3 separate regions of the Homo sapiens genome follow, and all the other regions are linked to region 1. Evidence: fine-mapped expression QTL. Tissue or cell type: whole blood. Region 1 holds a variant in brackets; each other region holds the start of a gene. All regions are shown on one strand. Distances are between the middles of the regions.

What was found. PIP is the estimated chance that this variant, and not a neighbour inherited with it, causes the effect.
Region 2: it holds the start of GBA1, and the variant in region 1 is fine-mapped to the expression of GBA1 in whole blood (TOPMed, PIP above 0.99).
Region 3: TRIM46 starts here. The variant in region 1 is fine-mapped to the expression of TRIM46 in whole blood (TOPMed, PIP above 0.99). The same link has a PIP of 0.9 or more in blood mononuclear cells.

The regions. Positions count from the first base shown.
Region 1 is chr1:155,424,775-155,433,034 of GRCh38, reverse strand. The region is part of intron 5 of ASH1L (ASH1 like histone lysine methyltransferase); the gene reads left to right. Among named protein-coding and RNA genes, the nearest start is that of MIR555, 82 kb to the right of the region's middle. The variant G/T (reference allele first, on the strand shown) is at 4,842.
Region 2 is chr1:155,237,443-155,245,442 of GRCh38, reverse strand. GBA1 (glucosylceramidase beta 1) reads left to right here and starts at 4,194. Exons shown (of 11, transcript NM_000157.4): 1 at 4,194-4,357; 2 at 4,726-4,813; 3 at 5,366-5,557; 4 at 5,681-5,827; 5 at 6,793-6,926; 6 at 7,137-7,309; 7 at 7,865-8,000. The coding sequence starts at 4,331. RefSeq lists an enhancer at 686-1,649.
Region 3 is chr1:155,170,102-155,178,101 of GRCh38, reverse strand. TRIM46 (tripartite motif containing 46) reads right to left here and starts at 4,253. Exons shown (of 10, transcript NM_025058.5): 1 at 4,073-4,253; 2 at 2,455-2,716; 3 at 1,871-2,214; 4 at 1,027-1,170; 5 at 812-907; 6 at 1-100. The coding sequence starts at 4,135. It overlaps KRTCAP2 (keratinocyte associated protein 2), which reads left to right and starts at 4,798. Exons shown (of 5, transcript NM_173852.4): 1 at 4,798-4,881; 2 at 5,210-5,364; 3 at 5,474-5,537. The coding sequence starts at 4,878. RefSeq lists silencers at 3,715-4,009, 4,179-4,268 and enhancers at 4,018-4,526, 4,599-4,648, 4,849-4,948, 4,527-5,035, 5,139-5,418.

The DNA.
Region 1 (8,260 bases):
TTACTGTAGTTTGAGACATCTTGACCATTTATGTTAGGAAGGGTCATCTTTAAAATGTGCTTCAAGAAAAGGCTTTCATCAGCCTGGGTAACATGGTGAAACCCCGTCTTTACCAAAAAATACAATAAATTAGCTGGGCGTGGTGGTGTTGCACGCCTGTGGTCCCAGCTACTTGGGAGGCTGAGGTGGGGGGATCGCTTGAGCCAGGGAAGCAGAGGTTGCAGTGAGCCTAGATTGTACCACTGCACTCCAACCTGGATGACAGAGTAAGACTTCGTCTCAACAACGACAAAAAAGGCTTTTGAATAGGTTAGCCTTTCTATTCCAGCAAATTCTAGTATCATGGTCAGCAAAATTAAACACATACTTTTTCACAAGATTGTATTCTGAGATTTGAAGAGATTATAAAGAGAAAGATAAAATTTCTGCCCTCAAGAGATTGTGTAGGGAAGGACATGACACACTGAGTTCCCAGAGATAGCAACAGTTTTTCAACTTGTTCTAATTGGAGCTTACACTAGTACTTGTTATATAATATGTATTCATTTATTTTTTCAATTAGTATTTGTTGGAAGATTATTATGTTTCATGTACTTAGAATTGATAGAGTGGTGAATAAATCTAGAAACTTTTCCTACCTTCATGGATTTTAACCATCCAAGTGCTATTATGAAGAGTTACTTAGAGTTATAAGAGTACTGTATATAATAGAAATAACTAACTTAGTTTCCCAGAAAAAGTAAGGACTATGCTAAAAATGTGAAGAATAGGCTTCATCTGTTATTTAAAGGAGTGAGGAGAGAGCATACACAAAAGTCTGAAAAAGCATGATAGTTTCAGGCAAGCGAAAGAAAGCTTTTGTGGTCAAAACATGGAGTAGAGTAGCATGGGATACAGATAGAGGTTGTAGGGATCAGATTGTGCCAAGAACCTTGTATGATATATTAAAGATTTTGGTCACTATTTGTTGATTAATATAAAACCAGAATGCACAGGAAGAATTTAATGGTTATGAGGTGGGCTTCTAGACTCGGAAAACCTAGGTTCAAATCCTGGTTTTAAAAAGAAAAAGGTATATTTTTAAAACACTTATAAATTTTTGCTGTAAAAAATAAAATCAGGCCAGGTGTGGTGGCTCACACCTGTAATCCCAGCAGTTTGTCAGGCTGAGGCAGGAGGATCACTTGAGGCCAGGAGTTCAAGACAGCCTGAGCAGTGTGGCTGGTTGTAGCTACCGTTTCTACAAAGAACTGTTTGTTTGTTTGTTTATTTTAGACAGGGTCTTGCTGCGTCCCCCAGGCTGGACTACAGTGGCACAATCTCAGTTCACTGCAACCTCCACCTCCCGGGCTCAAGCGTCTCCACCCCCATCCCTCCCCCACAGTGGCTGGGACTGCAGGCGGGGGCCACCAGGCCTGGCTAATTTTTGTGTTTTTTGTAGAGATGGGGTCTCACTATGTTACCCAGGCTGGTTTTGAACTCCTGCACTCAAGCGATCCTCTCAACTTGACCTCCCAAAGTGCTAAGATTACAGGTGTGAGCACCGCACCTGGTCCATCTCTACAAAACATTTAAAAATTAAATGAGCGTGGTGGCTCGTGTCTGTGGTTCTAGCTACTTGGGAGGCTGAGGTGGGAGGATCACTTGCACTCAGGAGGTTGAGGCTGCAATGAGCTGTGTTCCTTCACTGCACTCCAGCCTTGGTGACAGAGTGTGACCTTGCCTCTAAAAATACATATATATTATAGCAAGACTTTGTCTCTAAAAATATGTATCTTATAATGTATATTATATGTAAATATTATATATATATATATTTTTGTTGTTGTTGAGACGGCATCTTGCTCTGTTGCCCAGGCTGGAGTACAATGGCTTGGCTCACTGCAACCTCCACCTCTTGGGTTCTAGCGATTTTCCTGCCTCAGCCTCTGGAGTAGCTGGGATTACAGGTCCTGCCACCATGCCCGGCTAATTTTTGCATTTTTAGTAGAGACAGGGTTTCACCATATAGGCCAGGGTGGTCTCGAACTCCTGACCTCAAGTCTGCCCACCTTGGCCTCCCAAAGTGCTGGGATTACAGGCGTGAGCTACCACACCTGACCGAAAAAAATTGTTAAGAGCTTGCTGGCCACACCAATAGTCTCAGCTACTCTGGAGGCTGAGGCTGGAGGATTGGTTGAACCCAGGAGTTTGAGACCAGCTTGGGCAATGGCAAAACCCTATTTCTAAAAACAATTTTATGAAAATAAGAAATTAAAAGAACAAGTGAATGAGCCTGAAAATGATATTGGAAGAATGTAAAACATACACCTTAAGTTAATAAAATAAGGCAAATGTATAACAGTAAGAGTCACTTTTAAGACCAAAGTTCTTTGAAAACTAATAAAATAGACAAACTTCTGGTAAAGCCGATCAATAGGAATGAGAAAGGGAATAAATAGGGATTTAAAAGGAAATAAAGTGTATATAAGAGATTAAAAATTTACTACTGTGAGAACTTTAAGCCCATCAAATGGGAAAACTGTTGAAATGGACATGTTCCTAGAAAAATACAATTTTAACAAAACATACTCAAAAGAAATTACCTGAGCACTCCTATTGCCTAAATTGAATCTATTATTTAAAGTCTTGCCCCAAGAACAGCATCAGACCCAATTTTAACTTCTACCACACTTTCAAGAAAAATATTATTCCCATCTCATTAAAGAGAATATGGGCTGCAAACAGAAGAGGATACATCTAAAGAGAATACATAAACAGGCCAGATGAGGTGGCTCACACCTGTAGTCCCAGCATTTTGGGAGGCAGAGGCAGGAGTATTGCTGGAGCCCAGGGGTTGAAGACCACCCTGGGCAACATAGGGAAACTCCATCTCTACAAAAAACTTAAAAATCAGCCAAGTGTGGTGGCGCATGCCTGTAATCCCAGCTACTCGGGAGGCTGAGGCAGGAGAATTGCTTGAACCTGGCAGGCGGAGGTTGCAGTGAGCTGAGATCGCATCAGTGCGCTCCAGCCTGGGCGACAGAGTGAGACTCTGTCTCAAAAAAAAAAAAACTTAAAAATCAGCTGGACGTGCTGATGTGTGCCTGTAGTCCCAGCTACTAGGGAGGCTGAGGTGTTAAGGGATTGCTTGAGCTTGTCCAGGAGGTCGAGGCTACAGTGAGCCATAATCGTGCCACCACATTCCATCCTGGGTGACAAAGCGAGAACCTGTCTTAAAAAACAAATAAGAGACAAACAAGAGAATACATAACATAAGCTAAGTAAATTTTCTGTAGAGGTCGTACCCATATAAATATTCAGGAGGTGACCATACTTTCCCTGTTTGTAAACCCCTTTTCTTGCCAGAAGCTATAACCAATCTTCTGACTTTTAAGGTAACCACATATTTACCTTTTAAAATACTATTTATGTGTGCAGCTCTAAACAATACAGCTTATTCTTCCTGAATTTCATGTAAATCTAATTATACAGGTTGGGTGCCATATCATGCCTGTAATTTCAGCAATTTTGGAAGCCGAGGCGTGTGGATCGCTTGAACCCAGGAGTTTGAGAGTAGCCTAGGCAACATCGTCTCTACTAAGAATACAAAAAGTTAGCCAGTTGTGGTAGCACACGCCTGTAGTCCTAGCTACTCAGGAAGCCAAGTGGGAGAATCACTTGAGCCCAGGAGGTAGAGATTGCAGTGAGCCAAGATCACATCACTGCAATCCACCCAGGGTGACAGAGTGAGACCCTGTCTCAAAAAAGCAAAAACAAACAAACAAAATTAATTACAGAGGACATATACTATTGTGTCTCACCTTTTTTTGCTCAACATAGTCATGTTAAATTATGTATGTTAATGCATGTTGCTGTAGTTTTAATGTGTTGTTTCATTGTTTGTGTGTAATACAGTTCTTCGATTTTACTCTTGGATTATTTTCAACTTGAGGTTATTGCCCAAAAAAACTGCTTTTAATATTCCTCTAATGTCCACTGGTGGATATGGACACTAATTTCTCTAAAGCATTGTATATATATATATGCCGAGACCAGCTCGGTCGGGGAGACCCTAACCCAGTGGCGCTAGAGGAATTAAAGACACACACACAGAAATATAGAGGTGTGAAGTGGGAAATCGGGTCTCACAGCCTTCAGAGCTGAGAGCCCCGAACAGAGATTTACCCGCGTATTTATTAACAGCAAGCCAGTCATTAGCATTGTTTCTATAGATATTAGATTAACTAAAAGTATCCCTTATGGGAAACGGGATTAACTAAAAGTATCTCTTATGGGAAACAAAGGGATGGGCCGAAATAAAGGGATGGGTTTGGCCAGTTACCTGCAGCAGGAGCATGTCCTTAAGGCACAGATCGCTCATGCTATTGTTTGTGGTTTAAGAACGCCTTTAAGCGGTTTTCCAGCCTGGGTGGGCCAGGTGTTTCTTGCCCTTATTCTGGTAAACCCACAGCCTTCCAGCGTGGGTGTCATGGCCATCATGAACATGTCACAGTGCTGAAGAGATTTTGTTTATGGCCAGTTTTGGGGCCAGTTTATGGCCAGATTTTGGGGGGCCTGTTCCCAACATATATATATATATTTTTTTTTTTGAGACGGAATTTCATTGTTGTCGCCTAAGCTAGAGTGCAGTGGCACAATCTCGGCTTACTGCAACCTCCATCTCCTGGGTTCAAGCAATTCTCCTGCCCTCAGTCTCCCGAGTAGCTGGGATTAGAGGCGCCCACCACCACACCCGGCTAATTTTTTTGTACTTTTAGTAGAGACGGGGTTTCACCATGTTGGTCAGGCTGGTCTTGAACTCCTGACCTCAGGTGATCCACCTGCCTTGGCCTCCCAAA[G/T]TGCTGGGATTACAGGCGTGAGCCACTGCACCCAGACTTAAGGCATTATACTAATTTGTTCTCACATTGCTATAAATACCTGAGACTGGGTAATTTATAAAGAAAAGAGGTTTAATTCGTTCATGGTCCTGCAGGCTGTATAGTAAGCATGATGCTGGCATCTCCTAGGCTTCTGGGGAGGCTTCAGGAAACTTACAGTCATGGGGAGTATACTGGTTACAGGGCTAGAGCAGGAGCAAGAAGGAGAAGGACGAAGTGCCATACACTTTTTAAAGCACCAGATCTCAACAGAACTCACTCACTATGGCAACGACAGCATCGGGGGATGGTGCTAAACTGCTTAAGAGAAAACCACCCCCATGGTCCAGTCACCTCCCACCAGGTCTCACCACCAATATTGGTGATTACATTCCAGCGTGAGATGTGGGCAGGGCGCACATCCAAACTGTATCAGGGGCCGGGTGCAGTGGCTTGTGCCTGTAATCCCAGCAATTTGGGAGGCCGAGGTGGGTGGATCACCTGAGGTCAGGAGTTTAAGACCAGCCTGGCCAACATAGTGAACACCCATCTCTACTAAAAATAGAAAAATTAGCCGGGCGCAGTCGCTCTTGCCTGTAATCCCAGCATTTTGGGAGGCCGAGGTGGGCGGATCACCTGAGGTCAGGAATTTGAGACCAGCCTGGCCAACACGGCGAAACCCTGTCTCTACTAAAAAGTACAAAAATTAGCCAGGTGGTGGGCGCCTATAGTCCCAGCTACTCAGGAGCCTGAGGCAGGACAATCGCTTGGACCCGGGAGGCGGAGGTTGCAGTGAGCCGGGATCTGGCCACTGCACTCCAGCCTGGGCAACAAGAGCGGGACTCCATCTCAAAAAAAAAAAGAAAAATTAAAATTAGCCAGGTGTGGTGCTGCATGCCTGTAATCCCAGCTACTCATGAGGCTGAGGCAGCAGAATTGCTAGAACCTTGGAGGTGAAGGTTGCAGTGAGCTGAGATCAGACCACTTCACTCCAGCCTGGGTGACAGAGCGAGACTCTGTCTCAAAAAAAAAAAAAAAAAAAATTATATCAGAGTATATACCTGGAAAGGTAATTACTGAATAAAATAAAGGATTTGTCCCAAGACTTAATTTCAAGCTATGGAGTATTAAGGTGGTGTGGAATTGAATAGATAAAAGAAACAGACCTACACATATATGGAAGCTTGCTGGGTAACAGAGGCATATAAAGAACTGTTCAACAAATTGTGCCCAGTAAGTTGAAATCCCTGGGGATCAGAAGGAAATTGGATTCTGTCTTATCCTCTATACAAAAAATCAACTCCCAGTTGATTAAATACAGTTGACCCTTGAACAACACAGATTTGAGATTTGCGATACTTAAACTCACAGATGAACTGTGTAGCCTAGAAAAAAATTTTTTAGTTTTTAATTTTTATTTTTTGTGGATACATAGTAGGTGTAGCCTAGAAATAGTCAAAAAAATTAAAAAGTATGTCATGAACGGATAAAATATTTGTAGATGTTAATCCATTTTATTGTTTGCAGAAAGACATAAGATATACACAAATCTATTATAAAAAGTTAAAATTTCACTGGGAGTCTGATGTGGGCAGATCACCTGAGGTCAGAAGTTCGAGACTATCCTGGCCAACATGGTGAAACCCTATCTCTATTAAAAATATAAAAATTAATGGGCCAGGCGCGGTGTCTCACGCCTGTAATCCCAGCACTTTGGGAGGCCGAGGCGGTCGGATCACGAGGTCAGGAGATCGAGACCATCCTGGCTAACACGGTGAAACCCCGTCTCTACTAAAAAATACAAAAAGCTGGGTGCGGTGGCTCATGCCTGTAATCCTAGCACTTTGGGAGGCCAAGGCAGGTGGATTGCTTGAGCTCAGGAGTTCGAGACCAGCCTGGGCAACATGGTGAAACCCCATCTCTACTAAAATACAAAAAAAAAAATTAGCCGGGCATGATGGCACACTCCTGTAATCCCAGCTACTAGGGAGGCTGAGGCAGGAGAATCACTTGAACCTGGGAGGCAGAGGTTGCAGTGAGCCAAGATCGTGCCATTGCACTCCAGCCTGGGTGACAGAGTGAGACCCTGTCTTAAAAAATAAATAAATAAATAAATAAAATTAGCCGGGCATGGTGGCAGGCGCCTGTAGTCCCAGCTACTTGGGAGGCTGAGGCAGGAGAATGGCGTGAACCCAGGAGGCAGAGCTTGCAGTGAGCCGAGATCGCGCCACTGCACTGCAGCCTGGGTGACAGAGCGAGACTCCGTCTCAAAAAAAAAAAACACCACAAAAAAAATTAGGCCAGGCATGGGGGCTCCCACCTGTAATCCTGGTACTTTGGGAGGCTGAGGTGGGTGGATCACCTGAGGTCAGGAGTTCGAGCCAGCCTGGCCAACGTGGTGAAACCTCTTCTCTACTAAAAATAAAAAAATTAGCCCTGCTTGGCCGGGTGTGGTGGCTCACGCCTGTAATCCCAGCACTTTGGGAGGCCAAGGCAGGCAGATCATGAGGTCAGGAGTTCAAGACCAGCCTGACCAACATGGTGAAACCTGGTCTCTACTAAAAATACAAAAAATTAAGCATGGTGGCACATGCCTGTAATCCCAGCTACTTAGGAGTCTGAGGCAGGAGAATCGCTTGAACCCAGGAGGCAGAGATTGCAGTGAGCCAAGATCGCACCATTGCACTCCAGCCTGGGCAACAGAGCGAGACTCCACCTCAAAAAAAAAAAAAATAGCCCTGCATGATGGTGAGTGCCTGTAATCCCAGCTACCTGGAGGCTGAGGCAGGAAAATCACTTGAACCCAGGAGGCAGAAGCTGCAGTGATCCGAGATCGCGCCACTGCACTCCAGCCTGGGCGACAGAGGAAGACTCTGTCTCAAAAAAAAAAAAAAAAAACTAGGCCGGGCGTGGTGGCCCATGCCTGTAATCCCAGCACTTTTGGGAGACCAAGGTGGGTGGATCACTTGAGGTCAGGAGTTCGAGTTCGAGACCAGCCTGACCAACATGGTGACCCTGTCTCTACTAAAAATACAAAAATTAGCCGGGCATGGTTGTGCATGCCTTTAATCACAGCTACTGAGGAGGCTGAGGCAGGAGAATAACTTGAACCTGGGAGGCGGAGATTGCAGTGAGCTGATGTTGCTCCAATGCACTCCAGCCTGGCCACAGAGTAAGGCTCTGTCTCAAAAAAAAAACACAAAAACTAGCCAGGTGAGGTGGTGGGTGTCTATACTCCCAGCTACTTGTGAGGCTGAGGCAGAATCATTTGAACCCTGGGTAGCGAAGGTTGCAGTGAGCCAACATCATGCCATTGCACTCCAGCCTGGGCAAAAAAGCAAGACTCTGTCTCAAATAAAAAGTTAAAATTTATCAAAATTTACAAACACAAACTATACATG
Region 2 (8,000 bases), 190 kb after region 1:
GCGCCTGGCCACATACCCATGGTTTCAGCATGTATCACTATCTAAAATTATTATTTTTGTTTATATATCTGTGTCGTCCCATAGAATGTTAAGGTCCCAAGATCAGAAACTTGCTCATTGCAGTGGGTCTAACACTCAGTAGGTCCTCAACAAACATTCGTTAAGATACTAAAGTGGCAGGGTGGGGCCCTGTAAACAGCTTCAGGACCCTGTGCTTGTAGGGGCAACGTGGTGCCCTCCAAGGAAGACAGGGAGGTGGGAGGAGCACTGCCCAGAGATGGCGTCAGGCTGCAAGACTTCTTGAATAATTCAGCATCATAACAACCCAGCCTCAGGAAGGGATAGGGCACGGCCAGGACGAAACATTAGGAGGCGATGGACAATGGGATTCCCACGGGGCAGCTTCTGCGCACTGGACGTTCCCTAACCTGAGGCTCTCTAAAGAGGAAGGTTAGGAATCCTCTGAGCTTCGGTGGGCTGGACTCACTGTGGGAATTCAATCGCCCCCATCCACCAACAGTGTGCTGGCGGGAAAACGCCGACACGCATGCGTAGTTCTCGCGCCGGCTCCTCTCTCTCTCTCTCTCTCTCTCGCTCGCTCTCTCGCTCTCTCGCTCTCTCTCGCTCGCTCTCTCGCTCTCGCTCTCTCTCTCTCTCCGGCTCGCCAGCGACACTTGTTCGTTCAACTTGACCAATGAGACTTGAGGAAGGGCTCTGAGTCCCGCCTCTGCATGAGTGACCGTCTCTTTTCCAATCCAGGTCCCGCCCCGACTCCCCAGGGCTGCTTTTCTCGCGGCTGCGGGTGGTCGGGCTGCATCCTGCCTTCAGAGTCTTACTGCGCGGGGCCCCAGTCTCCAGTCCCGCCCAGGCGCCTTTGCAGGCTGCGGTGGGATTTCGTTTTGCCTCCGGTTGGGGCTGCTGTTTCTCTTCGCCGACGGTAGGCGTAATGAATATTTCGACCTTTGGATCTTAGCTGTCCCCTCCCTGCGTTCGCACTTAACCTTTTTCACCATTATTATTATTATTGTTATTATTATTATTTTTTGAGGGAGTCTCGCCCTGTCGCCCAGGCTGGAGTGTAATGGCGCCTTCTTGGCTCACTGCAACCTCCGCCTCCCGGGTTCAGGCGATTCTCCGACCTCAGCCTCCCAAGTACGTGGGATTACAGGCACCCGCCACCACGCACGGCTAATTTTTTGTATCTTTTAGTAGAGACGGGGTTTCACCATGTTGGTCAGGCTGGTCTCCAATTCCTGACCTCGTGATCCGCCCGCCTCGGCCTGCCAAACAGCTGTGATTATAGGCGTGAGCCACCGCGCCCGGCCAACCATCATTATTATTTTTAACGGTAAGGATGGTCAGATTTTACTAATGAAGAAGAGATTATAAAATCTTCAAGTCTTTATATCCACTTGCTTTTTGAGGGGTGGAGTGGGAAGAAGGTTATGTAATTCATACGTTCTTCAGACATGTGACAAACATTCACGGAGCCCGGCGACGAGCGTCGGGGTTGGGATTCGCACTGGAGCTGCAGATGGGTGCCAGGATGGACTGGTCCCTACCCTCCGCTTGAACCTAGGAGGCGGAGGTTGCAGTGAACCGAGATCGTGCCACTGCACTCCAGCCTGGGTGACAGAGATACTCCGTCTCAAAAAAAAAAACAAAACAAAAAACAAGCGGACTGGGCGCAGTGCCTCACCCTGTAATCCCAGCACTTTGCAAAGCCAAGGCGGGAGGATCCTTTGAGTTTAGGAGTTTGAGACCAACCTGCGCAACACAGTAAGACCCCGTCTCTACAAAAAATACAGAAATTAGCCAGGTGTGGTGGTGTGCGCCTATAGTCCCAGCTATTCTGGAGGCTGAGGTGGGAGGATTGCTTATTCTGGAGGCAGAGGTTGCACTGAGCCGAAATCAAGCTACTACACTCCATCCAGGGCAACATACGGAGACCCTGTCTCAAACAAACAAACAAAAAATTGCTCAGTACCTGGCCAAAAAAGAAGAGGCTCACTATGCAGAGGGGAAGTGGAAGGAGATGTTTGGACTTCTAAACTCAATAGAGCAGGAGAGGCAAATGTAGAATGTGCTCAGGAAATATCTGTGAGATGAATGAACTTGAGGGAAGTAAGGTACTAGATATTACCTGCCCTACCCAGAACAAATCCTGTGCAATGTTTCCTTGAAAAGTGAGAAGTCTGGAAGGGGTGGCTACTGACATAGTGAAGCAACTAGTTCAATTCTACAACTTGACAGCTACCCCTGTGCCAGGCTATCTACGAGGATACTTAGAATGCATAAGACATTCCTTCAAGGAACTCCAGGAACAGAGGCCTGACATGTTGCAATGTTTAGTGTCAAGCAGTGTACTAGAGACACATTATCACACTCAAACCTCACAACAATTCTGTGAGGTAGGAGTTATCACTCCCCTTTTATAGATGAAACAGAGGCTTAGAGTGATTGATTTATTGAAAGTCAAACAGCCAGTAAATGGTGTAGCCAGGATTCCAAACTTGCTGTCTCACTGAGACTGTACTTAATTACTGGAGGGACCGGGTGTGGTGGCTCATTGCTATAATCCCAACACCTTGGGAGGCTGAGGCTGGTGGATCACCTGAGGTCAGGGGTTCGAGACCAGCCTGGCCAACATGGTGAAACCCCATCTCTACTAAAAATACAAAAATTAGCTGGGCATGGTGGTGGGCTCCTGTAATCCCAGCTACTCAGGAGGCTGAGGCAGGGCAATTGCTTGAGCCGAGATCACACTGCACTCCAGCCTGGGCAACAGGGCAAGACTCTGTCTCAAAACCAAAAAAAAAAAAATTACTGGAGGAACCTAGAAGAAGAAATGATCAATTTTGCTTGGAGTGTATCTAGAAAGACTTCACTGAGATCATTTAAAGAACAAAAAGGATGGCTGGGGTCCAGCGCAGTGGCTCATGCCTGTAATCCCAGCACTTTCGGATACCAAGGCAGCAGATCACCTGAGGTCCAGAGTTTCAGACCAGCCTGGCCAACATAGTGAAACCCCATCTCTACTAAAAATAAAAAAATTAGCTGAGCATGTTGGAGGGCACCTGTAATCCCAGCTACTTGGGAGGCTGAGGCAGGAGAATCACTCGAACCCAGGAGGTGGAGGTTGCAGTGAGCCAAGATCACGCCACTGCACTCCAGCCTGGGCAACAGAGTGAGACTCTGTCTCAAAAAACAACAACAACAAAAAATACAAACAAGAGACAAGTAGTTCCCAGGTGCCTACCAAGTGGTCAGGCACTGCACTTACCTCACTGACTGCAGTAACCACCCTTTGAGGTTGTGGCATTGCCTCCATTTTCCAGGCAAGGAAATGGGCTGAGAGCTGGGATTAGTCAGGTCATGACTGTGTGTGCCACTCCCGCTAAATCTCATTTGATGTGGTTCATGAGGCCACACCATGGACAGCTTCCTCCTTGTGTCCACTGAGGATATGGCTTTGTACAACACTTTGGTTTTTGAACGACTTTACAAACCTCCCTGTCTTGTGAGGAAGGAAGAACAGTTATTACCATCTGCATCTGATGATGAAACAAGGGACGCTGCAGAGGAGCCGCACTGACCACTCCCTCCCTCCAGTCCTGTCATCCCACTGCCAGTGTCCCACCCTCTTGTGCCCTGCACTTCACTGGCTAATAACCCCCCTCACTTTTTCCTCTGTGAAGCCATCCTGGATAATTCCCCACCCACGAATGGTCCCTCCTCATCTCAGAGAGCTCTCCATGCACACCTGTTACCGTTTCTGTCTTTATCTGTAAATATCTGTGTGTCTGACTTCCATGCCTCACACACCTCTATAGGGCAAAGACTGTCTTAAACATCTTGGTAGTGTCAGTATTTTGCACAGTGAAGTTTTTTTTTTTAAATTATATCAGCTTTATTTGTACCTTTTTGACATTTCTATCAAAAAAGAAGTGTGCCTGCTGTGGTTCCCATCCTCTGGGATTTAGGAGCCTCTACCCCATTCTCCATGCAAATCTGTGTTCTAGGCTCTTCCTAAAGTTGTCACCCATACATGCCCTCCAGAGTTTTATAGGGCATATAATCTGTAACAGATGAGAGGAAGCCAATTGCCCTTTAGAAATATGGCTGTGATTGCCTCACTTCCTGTGTCATGTGACGCTCCTAGTCATCACATGACCCATCCACATCGGGAAGCCGGAATTACTTGCAGGGCTAACCTAGTGCCTATAGCTAAGGCAGGTACCTGCATCCTTGTTTTTGTTTAGTGGATCCTCTATCCTTCAGAGACTCTGGAACCCCTGTGGTCTTCTCTTCATCTAATGACCCTGAGGGGATGGAGTTTTCAAGTCCTTCCAGAGAGGTAAGAGAGAGAGCTCCCAATCAGCATTGTCACAGTGCTTCTGGAATCCTGGCACTGGAATTTAATGAATGACAGACTCTCTTTGAATCCAGGGCCATCATGGCTCTTTGAGCAAGGCACAGATGGAGGGAGGGGTCGAAGTTGAAATGGGTGGGAAGAGTGGTGGGGAGCATCCTGATTTGGGGTGGGCAGAGAGTTGTCATCAGAAGGGTTGCAGGGAGAGCTGCACCCAGGTTTCTGTGGGCCTTGTCCTAATGAATGTGGGAGACCGGGCCATGGGCACCCAAAGGCAGCTAAGCCCTGCCCAGGAGAGTAGTTGAGGGGTGGAGAGGGGCTTGCTTTTCAGTCATTCCTCATTCTGTCCTCAGGAATGTCCCAAGCCTTTGAGTAGGGTAAGCATCATGGCTGGCAGCCTCACAGGATTGCTTCTACTTCAGGCAGTGTCGTGGGCATCAGGTGAGTGAGTCAAGGCAGTGGGGAGGTAGCACAGAGCCTCCCTTCTGCCTCATAGTCCTTTGGTAGCCTTCCAGTAAGCTGGTGGTAGACTTTTAGTAGGTGCTCAATAAATCCTTTTGAGTGACTGAGACCAACTTTGGGGTGAGGATTTTGTTTTTTTTCTTTTGAAACAGAGTCTTACTCTGTTGCCTGGGCTGGAGTGCAGTGGTGCAATTTTGGCTCATTCCAACCTCTGCCTCCCAGATTCAAGCGATTCTCTTGCTTCAGCTTCCCAGGTAGCTGGGATTACAGGCGGCCACCACTACGCCCAGCTAATTTTTGTATTTTTAGTAGAGACGGGGTTTCACCATGCTGGCAAGGCAGGTCTCAAACTCCTCACCTCAGGTGATCCGCCCACCTCGGCCTCCTAAAGTGCTAGGATTACAGGTGTGAGCCCCTGCGCCCGGCCAAGGGGTGAGGAATTTTGAAACCGTGTTCAGTCTCTCCTAGCAGATGTGTCCATTCTCCATGTCTTCATCAGACCTCACTCTGCTTGTACTCCCTCCCTCCCAGGTGCCCGCCCCTGCATCCCTAAAAGCTTCGGCTACAGCTCGGTGGTGTGTGTCTGCAATGCCACATACTGTGACTCCTTTGACCCCCCGACCTTTCCTGCCCTTGGTACCTTCAGCCGCTATGAGAGTACACGCAGTGGGCGACGGATGGAGCTGAGTATGGGGCCCATCCAGGCTAATCACACGGGCACAGGTAACCATTACACCCCTCACCCCCTGGGCCAGGCTGGGTCCTCCTAGAGGTAAATGGTGTCAGTGATCACCATGGAGTTTCCCGCTGGGTACTGATACCCTTATTCCCTGTGGATGTCCTCAGGCCTGCTACTGACCCTGCAGCCAGAACAGAAGTTCCAGAAAGTGAAGGGATTTGGAGGGGCCATGACAGATGCTGCTGCTCTCAACATCCTTGCCCTGTCACCCCCTGCCCAAAATTTGCTACTTAAATCGTACTTCTCTGAAGAAGGTGAGGAGGAAGGGGACAAGATGACATAGAGCCATTGAAACTTTTCGTTTTTCTTTTCTTTTTTTAAAATTTTTTTGAGGCAGAATCTCACTCTGCCCATTCTGTCGGCGAGACAGGAGTGCAGTGGTGTGATCTCCCCTCACAGCAACCTCTGCCTCCCAGGCTATAGTGATTCTCCTGCCTCAGCCTCCTGAGTAGCTGGAATTATAGGCGTGCGCCACTACCACCTGGCTAATTTTTGTATTTTTAGTAGAGACAGGGTTTCATCATGTTGACCAGGCTAGTCTTAAACTCCTGACCTCAAATGATATACCTGCCTTGGCCTCCCGAAGTGCTGGAATTACAAGTGTGAGCCACCGAGCCCAGCAGACACTTTTCTTTTTTCTTTTTTTTTTTTTGAGACAGAGTCTCGCACTGTCACCCAGGCTGGAGTGCAGTGGCACAATCTCAGCTCACTGCAACCTCCACCTCCCGGGTTCAGGTGATTCTCCTGTCTCAGCCTCTCGAGTACCTGGGATTACAGGTGCCTGCCACCACGCCCGGCTAATTTTTTGTATTTTTAGTAGAGACAGGGTTTCACTATGTTGGCCAGGATGATTGCGAACTCCTGACCTCGTGATCTGCCCACATCGGCCTCCCAAAGTGCTGGGATTACATGCGTGAGCCACTGACACTTTTCTTTGCCCTTTCTTTGGACCCTGACTTCTGCCCATCCCTGACATTTGGTTCCTGTTTTAATGCCCTGTGAAATAAGATTTCACCGCCTATCATCTGCTAACTGCTACGGACTCAGGCTCAGAAAGGCCTGCGCTTCACCCAGGTGCCAGCCTCCACAGGTTCCAACCCAGGAGCCCAAGTTCCCTTTGGCCCTGACTCAGACACTATTAGGACTGGCAAGTGATAAGCAGAGTCCCATACTCTCCTATTGACTCGGACTACCATATCTTGATCATCCTTTTCTGTAGGAATCGGATATAACATCATCCGGGTACCCATGGCCAGCTGTGACTTCTCCATCCGCACCTACACCTATGCAGACACCCCTGATGATTTCCAGTTGCACAACTTCAGCCTCCCAGAGGAAGATACCAAGCTCAAGGTAGGCATTCTAGCTTTTTCAGGCCCTGAGGGCCCTGATGTCTGGGGGTTGAGAAACTGTAGGGTAGGTCTGCTTGTACAGACATTTTGTCCCCTGCTGTTTTGTCCTGGGGGTGGGAGGGTGGAGGCTAATGGCTGAACCGGATGCACTGGTTGGGCTAGTATGTGTTCCAACTCTGGGTGCTTCTCTCTTCACTACCTTTGTCTCTAGATACCCCTGATTCACCGAGCCCTGCAGTTGGCCCAGCGTCCCGTTTCACTCCTTGCCAGCCCCTGGACATCACCCACTTGGCTCAAGACCAATGGAGCGGTGAATGGGAAGGGGTCACTCAAGGGACAGCCCGGAGACATCTACCACCAGACCTGGGCCAGATACTTTGTGAAGTAAGGGATCAGCAAGGATGTGGGATCAGGACTGGCCTCCCATTTAGCCATGCTGATCTGTGTCCCAACCCTCAACCTAGTTCCACTTCCAGATCTGCCTGTCCTCAGCTCACCTTTCTACCTTCTGGGCCTTTCAGCCTTGGGCCTGTCAATCTTGCCCACTCCATCAGGCTTCCTGTTCTCTCGGTCTGGCCCACTTTCTTTTTATTTTTCTTCTTTTTTTTTTTTTTGAGAAGGAGTCTCTCTCTCTGTCACCCAGGCTGGAGTGCTGTGGCGCCATCTTCACTCACTGTAACCTCTGCCTCCTGAGTTCAAGCAATTCTCCTGCCTCAGCCTTCCAAGTAGCTGGGATTATAGGCGCCTGCCACCAGGCCCAGCTGATTTTTCTATTTTTAGTAGAGACGGGGTTTCGCCAGGCTGTTCTCGAACTCCTGAACTCAAGTGATCCACCTGCCTCGGCTTCCCAAAGTGCTGGGATTACAGGTGTGAGCCACCACACCCAGCTGGTCTGGTCCACTTTCTTGGCCGGATCATTCATGACCTTTCTCTTGCCAGGTTCCTGGATGCCTATGCTGAGCACAAGTTACAGTTCTGGGCAGTGACAGCTGAAAATGAGCCTTCTGCTGGGCTGTTGAGTGGATACCCCTTCCAGTGCCTGGGCTTCACCCCTGAACATCAGCGAGACTTCATT
Region 3 (8,000 bases), 250 kb after region 1:
CTTCAATGGCCTGAAGCAGTGATGCCCGCTTCTCCTCCAGCACAGCCCCCAGCCCCCGCACCAGCTGCGACACCTCCTCCTTGGCCTGCTGACCACTCACCTGCCCAGGGAGCAACACCCAAAGGATGCGTGACTTACTATCTTCTTTTTGGAGGCAGCACTTGTGCTGGCCTCCTTGGATGCCACAGCATGGCTAAGGTCACAAGGGATCTGGGGAAATCCTACTCACCCATTCCTACAGGGCCTGGGCTCATGGCTGCAAAGGCACCTCTAGATGGACTCAACTCCTGGTCATTTGTGCCAACCTTCCCGGAACCCCACATCATAATCTCTGCCCCTTAGTGACTCATCCAAATGAACGAGGCCATGGCTACCCTAATGTCCACTTGGACTGCACTAATTAATGTCCACTGGCATCTATGCCATCCTTAGTTGTCCATCCCCATGTCAGCCAGCTCAAGCAACCTGGCAGAAGGTATCAGTCATCACCTCACTCTAGCACTGGGAATGCGTGACATCCTCGGTAGGCACCTGAGCCTGAGAGCATCTGAGCTACGCGTGGGGTTTTTTGAGCTATGCATGGGGTTTTTCGAGCACTCTCCTGAGCTATAGCCACCCTGCCCCCTCCTGCAGCCCAGGTACAGCCTGGCCTGGGGCACTGGTGTTCCTGCAAACCTGGTTTAACCAGAACCTGGACACCTCACGGGCTTCCTGAGCTAGCAACAAGGTGATTGGGTCATGATCACCCACACCCCCTTCCTGCCCCTACTCCCAGGCAGGGCCCAGGGCCTACCTCTGTGCCCTCCCTCACCTCGGTGTGCCTCACGGCCTCCTCCAGCTCACAGATCTGGGTCTGTACCGTGTCCTGGTTTCCCAGGATGTATGTCAGGCTCTTTGTCAGCTTGTCCTGAGGGGGAAGAAAGAGGTGGGCATCAAGCCCAGCTCTGCAGAAGCCAGCAGTTGGGAGGAGGTGCAAGAGGGTAAGAGTGTGAGTTAGCACTAGGGTTGGATAAGGGGGGTCCTTACCTTGAGGGCCTGGTAGGCACTGAGCACTGGTGTGATCTTGTGCCCGCTGTGGGTGCGCCGCACCCGGCAGAGTTGACATACCAGGCGTTGGCATGTCTTGCAGTAGTGGGTCACCTCTTCCTTGTGGTCTGGGCACATAAGGCCCTAGGGACACAAAGAACAATGTGATGGTCAGACAATGGTGTGGGTAAGGGTGCTATGCTACCACTACAGCAGTTTGGTGCCCTCCTCCACTGGCAAGATGGGAGTGGAGACATCCGCTGGTGGTGCTCCACAGTGCCACCTGGTGGTACATACTGGCATCAAAGAGCCTTTCCTGCAGTCTCCGGGCGGTGCCCATTTCACCAGCATTGCACCTCCCTTCATCTCTCTCATTGGGATATATGGTAATAACAGTAATAATGATGCCAATTAATCTTTGCCTGGTAGTTAATAATTAACCTTGTCCATCTTGTTTACTGCTGTATCTCCAACACCTAGAATAGCACCATGCACATAGGTGCTCAATAAATATTTGTTCAGTGAGTGAATGCACACAGACCTTTTCAGTGTGCAGGTAACACTTTTTAGTGAACAAACATTATCTCACACCATCCTCTCAGCAACCCTTTAGGTATGGACATTGCAGGGCAGATACTACCATCCCCCTACAGGGATGTAAATGAGATGGAGGCCCAAAGTTGTTGAATGATTTGTCCAGTGACTTTGTGACAGATTACAGAGATAGGTGCTTAGCATTGGAAAACCCTTCCCACTTCCTTTTGGAAACCCACAATGCCAGGCACCCCCACCCACCTGCAGCAGCATGTCCCTCCCTCCCCAGGCCTTGGAAGGGCTGGCTCACCTTGGGTCGGAAGGAGAGGGTAGGCAGGGTGGGCTCATGCTGGGCCTTCTGGGTGCCCCAGGGGTGGAAGAGCTTGAAGCACTCATTGCAGAAGGTGGCGCGGCACTCTGTGCAGCCCTTGGTGGCCTCTAGTGGTGGGGGCTTGCACAACTGGCACAGGATGGCACCTCCCACACTCACACTCTGGCGGTACCGCTCCACCACACGCTCCAGGGTCAGGTTCCGGAAAAGCCCTGCCAGACCCCGCTCCCCAAGCTCCACATCACCTTGGCAGGCTGGGCACGGGAACATGATCACTTGGGGGTGCAAAGCACCTCGCTTCCTCCCAGGGTATGTCCCAAAGCCTGTGGGTGAACCAGGGAGGTAGAGGACATGAGAGTTACAGCTGGCTGGGTGTGGGGAAGCCTGTTTAATTAAATTAGATTTTCATTGTGCCAGAGCTCAGCTCTCATTAGAGCCTGCGTAAGCAGTATCTCCACCCCCCAGAAAGACAGACAGATGCCTCTGACCAGTGATGGACTTCTTCCATCTTCCTGATGAATAGCTCAGCGTTCCCATCCCCACCCTACAGGCCCCAGTCCCACCTGACTTAAGCAGCCGGTCCAGGCGGTCTGGCTTGGGGAGAGTTCTGCGGGAGAGGCGGGGGCTGCGGGTGGAAGGGGTGGAGGCAGGAGAGGTGGGCTCGGAGCTGGGGTCCCCACCATGTCCTATGTAGCCCTGCTGGCCCAAGACCTCTCGGGCACAGGCCTGGCACACGTTGTGGGTACAGGGCAGCACCAGTGGCTGCTTGTACATCTCTTGACACACTGGGCACAGCAGTTCCTTCTCCATGTTCTTCATGCTGGTCTGTGGAGGGACCAGGAGGCTAGGTCAGCGCTTGGACACTTAGGCATACCTCAGCAGCCCCTTGGCTGCCCTTGGATACCCTAGGGGTCTGAGGAAGGAGCAAGACAAGCTACCTGCAGCTTTTCCAGAGCACCTGCCTTGGGCTGGTTCACAGACCTTCCCAGACCTCTGTCCCTTGCTTCTCTTTCCCCGCTGCAGAGCTAAAGGCCCAGAGGAGGGACGGTTGGAGCTTGTGCCTGCTCCAGCCTCAAGCCCAATCCCCATTTCTCCAGCTGCAGTAGCCCCAGCTGGCAGCCCCCTCACCTGCCTCCATCCCCCATCTCTGGGCAGCTTGCCCCTGGCATTTTTCTCAAGGACACCGCCCATTCTGCAGCTCCATGCAGACCCCCACTCCCTTCTCTAGCAGCACCCCCATGCCGTGATTCCTCCCGATAGCCAGGCGAGGTTGGCACTCCATCCTGCTCGCTCCATACGTCCTCCTGCCGCAGCTCCGGCCTGCGGCCACTCCAGCCTCCATTCCCCATCCTTCACTTCCCCATCGGTCTTACCAACCCATTCCCCTTCGCCCCCATCAGGCCCTCCCGCCCTCTCCCGCAGCGCAACCCGGTCAGCGGCACCCCCTTCTCCGAACTAGCGGGGGAATCAAGAGCCCCGCCTACTCGCCCCCTCCCCACCGGAAGTCCCCTCCCCCTCTTGGTGGCGAGAGTGGGGGTCCTCAGGCTATGCCCCACCCCCACACCTCACCTTGGTCCCTCTCTTCGCAGCCATCCCGGTCAGGGGCGCAGCTGACACAAAGGAGGGAGGAACAAGGAGGGGGGGAGGAAGTGGTGGGGGGGAACACGGTTGGCACCGCCCCTGGGAGAGCCAGGCACGGGTTGCCATGACAACCGCAGGCTCGGAAGCAGCCCTGAGTGGGGGTGCGTGGGGTGGGGTCTTGGGGAGGGGTCCAAATTGGGAACTGCACTGTGGGGCGGCTCCTACATCATCCCCCACCTGTCCTCAGTTTTCTTGGAAAATATCCAAGCTCACACGTCCCTCTTCTCATAACAGGGCCTTTCCCCTGAAGCCCCAGCCCCGGTGCACTGCTGGAGGCCACCCCAGCCCACCCGCTGCGTCTGGGCTGCTCCTAGCTCCTCCTCACGCTCCAGCACACCGACGCCTTCACGGCACTCACCTCCGGGCTGCTCCCGGGATTACCCTCTCATACCTGCATCCCGACCCTCCCAGCCGTTTCTGCCATCGCTAGCCCCCTGTCTACATCCCAGCATCTTCCTGGATCCCCACCTGTTCCAGGTCCCAGCTTGCCCCAGAACCCTATACGCCCCCTCCCCTTCCCTCGACCCCACCTTAACTCACACTGATGCGGACCAGTGCGTCCATGATGGAAGTGAAGGTCTGCATATCCTCACCCTCTGCCATGGCCCTACCGTGCCCGCCCGCCCCTGGGTGCCCGATCCCGGCTGCGGCTGCGAACCCCGGGCTTAATGCAGGAGCCCAGTGGGGGTGTGAGGAGGGCTGGGGGTTGAGGTGTCACTGCGCATGCTCCCGGGACCAGCCTCGAACAGCGCCCGTCGGGGTAGGGGGTGGGAAATAGTTCTCCCCACGTGGTTCTCGAAAGCCGGTCGGGGGGTTGGGGAATATGGAAAGGTATTTGACGGGGGAGCCATTTCTTACATTCTCATTTTTCATTGGCTCCTAATTTTACTCATATAAAGCGGGGGATTAGTTTCGGAGGAAAATGAGTTCCTGGTTGGGAGCACTAAATTTTAGGTTGGGAGATGTTGAGGCATGGGGCAGGGAGGTTTGAGGAACGTGCACTAGAGATGAAAGAAATGGCAAAGAAGACAGAGATGGGATAGATGCCACAGGCATGGGCCCAATGACTTAAAGAGATAAGTGCACCTTGTACAGAGTGGCAGCAGACGCACCAGGTACGAGGAAAGCCTGAGGACCAGGGCGGTGGCCGAGGATGCCCCCTCGACGCATTATTTCCTCCCTGTCGCAAGAGGGCGCTGCGTCCAGGCACTGAGAGGAAGAAAGAGGAGAACGCGAGGAGTAGCAAGTCCGCGGTAAGCGCTGACGCATGCGCATAGCTAACCGCACCCGGTTCAGCTCGCCTTTCTTGGCCAGAGGCGCCGGTTGGACTCACGGGCGGGGCATGATGGGTAACAGGACCGGTGGGGTCCCCAGGAAGTCCTAGAGGGGGTCGGGGTTTGGGTGGACAAGCTTTCCTCGTCCTCTCCCGACAGAGCTGACGTGTCCTGGGTTCCACCGGGAGCGGGCATTTCCACCGGACGGGAGGGTTCGGGGTGTCCGGGGCTGGGGAATACGTAGGGGTTGCCGCGCGGTGTGGGGAGTTGGGGCGTGTGGCTGCAGTCCCGGGAGTTCTTGGAGGGGGTCGGCCCACCGAGCTTCCGGACCGGCTGATCTGCCCGTAGCTTGCCGGAGGGAGGGCGGAGCCTGACTCTCCGTCCCTTCTCCCATCCCCTCCAGTGGTGGGTACGGGCACCTCGCTGGCGCTCTCCTCCCTCCTGTCCCTGCTGCTCTTTGCTGGGATGCAGATGTACAGCCGTCAGCTGGCCTCCACCGAGTGGCTCACCATCCAGGGCGGCCTGCTTGGTTCGGGTCTCTTCGTGTTCTCGCTCACTGTATCCTCCCTGCAGTTGGAGGGGGCGGGCCACGTAGGCATGTGCCCTTCCCCTTCCCCACACAGCTCTGTCCCCGTTGCACACCCTACTCCTTAACTCCCTCAACCAGGCCTTCAATAATCTGGAGAATCTTGTCTTTGGCAAAGGATTCCAAGCAAAGATCTTCCCTGAGAGTAAGTGAATATTGGAGCTTGAGTATTTGAACTTTCTCCTCTTTAACCTCCTGAAACATGATATTGAATTTCCAGATGCTTAGGTGAAAGGTTGTTAAGGAGAAATATATTTACTGAAGCTGTCTGAAGACAGATGACGCTTTTCGATTCTGCACCTTGTATAGCTCCTGGAGTTGGAGCTGGAAGAGAAGGCCTTTGAAAGCAAGAAACTTTGGTACCTTCTGGCCAGCTCCCAGGGAAGGTTTGAGGGGAACAGGCAAATTTGGGCTGATGTTTTGCATCTATTCGCTGGGAGGCGGTCCTTGTTCCCACCAGAAGAAGCAGCAGGACCAAGTTCACTATGGAGTTCTGATGTGAAGTTAACTCAATATTAGAGAATTCTACTTATTTGAGGGAATTGTGAAGAGCCTAAATACTAGAGGCACCAAATATCTATGGCAGCAGGAATCCTGACCAAATCAGAATAACTGTTAGATTATTTCCTGTTTGGAATAATTCTTGTTCAATTGCTCATGTAATCAAGAATTGATGATTCAGTTATTTATGGAGAATTAAGTTTATAAAGCAAATTAAGTGTCAAGGCCAGATTACTTAAGGAATGCCACGTGCTCAGAAATTCACAGCAGATGCAATCTCATGTAAAACCCTCATGTGGTAAAACAAAGATCTATCATGGTTGCCCTTAATCTTTTCTCTTTTTTTTTTTTTTTTTTTTTTGAGACAAGGCTTTACTCTGTCGCCTAGGCTGGAGTGCAGGGATGTGATCACTGAAGCCTTGACCTGGTCTCAAGCAATCTTCCCTCCTCAGTCTTACCAGTAGCTGGGACTACCAGTGAGTGCCACCACACCCAGCTACTGTTTTAAGTTTTTGTAGAGATGGGGTTTCACCACATTGCCCAGGCTGGTCTCGAACTCCTGGGCTCAAGTGATCCTCCTATTTCAGCCTCCCAGAGTGCTGGAATTACAGGTGTGAGCCACTGTGCCTGGCTGCCCTCATTTCTTTGCCCCCCTCTAGGACTTGCTTTCTCCGCATAGCCCTTTTGCAGGCTTCAGAGTTCTTTCCATCCAGTAGCCCCGGGACTTCTCTCTGTTAGGTTTTGTTTCCATATGTATTACCTTCACTTGCTTCTTTTTTTTTTTTTTTTTGAGATGGAGTCTCGCTCTGTCACCCATGCTGGAGTACAGTGGTGTGAACCCAGCTCACTGGAGCCTCTGCCTCCCAGGTTCAAGCGATTCTCCTGCCTCAGCCTCCCGAGTAGCTGGGATTACATGCGTGCGCCACCATAACTGGCTAATTTTTGTATTTTTGGTAGAGATAGGATTTCACCATGTTGGTTAGGCTGGTCTTGAACTCCTGACCTTAAGTGATCCACCCGTCTTGGCCTCCCAGAGTGCTGGGATTACAGGGGTGAGCCACTGTGCCTGGCTTTTCAGTTGCTTCTGAAAGAAACCATTGGCTGGGTGGGATGGCACACGCCTGTAATCCTAGCACTTTGGGAGGTGTAGGCTGGCAGATAGCTTGGGCCCAGGAATTCAAGACCAGCTTGGGCAACATAGAGAGACCCTGTCTCTCCAAAAAAATACAAAAATTAGCCGGGCATGGTGGTACGCACCTATAGTCCCAGGTACTCGGGAAGCTGAGGTGGGATGATCGCTTGAGCCCAGGAGATCAAGGCTGCAGTGAGCTGAAACTGCACCACTGCACTCCAGCCTGGGCGACAGAGTGAGATTCTGCCTCAAAAATAAAAAAAAATAATAAAAAAAGAAAAGATGCCATTGTGGTGGGGCAAAGTTCTTGGCCCACTTTGCCTTCTCTGCCCTCTCCACCTGGGCAGGTGGGGCCCTGTTTGTCTTTGCTTTTGTCCTCTCACCTTCTCTCCCATCATATTCCAGGTAACCTAAAATCCTTTCCTGCCCCCATGAAGAAGTAGATCCAAGCACTCTGCCCTCCAACCTGTGTCCAGGGAGCAAGGCCTTCAACTTCCACCACTGGTCACCCAGCTTAATGAATTGACTCTCATTGTCTGGCTTCTTTTGGAAAGGGTTTAACTGGGTTCCCCAAATGGGAACACACCTTGCCCTTCAGACTCTGTTGTCCATCACCTTTCCTTTTTCCTTTTATGGGAGGAAAGCCAGGGTAGGGAAGTTATGTGAGATATGGGGCAGAGCTGGTAAAAAAAAGCATACATCTACATCCATGTTCTTTTTTTTTTTTTTTTTTTTTGGAGACGGGGTCTCACTCTGTTGCCCAGGCTGGAGTGCAGTGGTGCGATCACAGTTCACTGCAACTTTGAACTTCCTGGCTCAAGGGTTCCTCCAACTTCAGCCTCCTGAATAGCTGGGACTACAGGCATGTGTACCACTGTACTACCTGGCTAAATTTTTTTTAATTCAATTTTTTTTTTTTTTAAGAGATGGGTCTCACTTTGTTGTTCAGGCTGGTCTCAAACTCCTGGGCTCAAG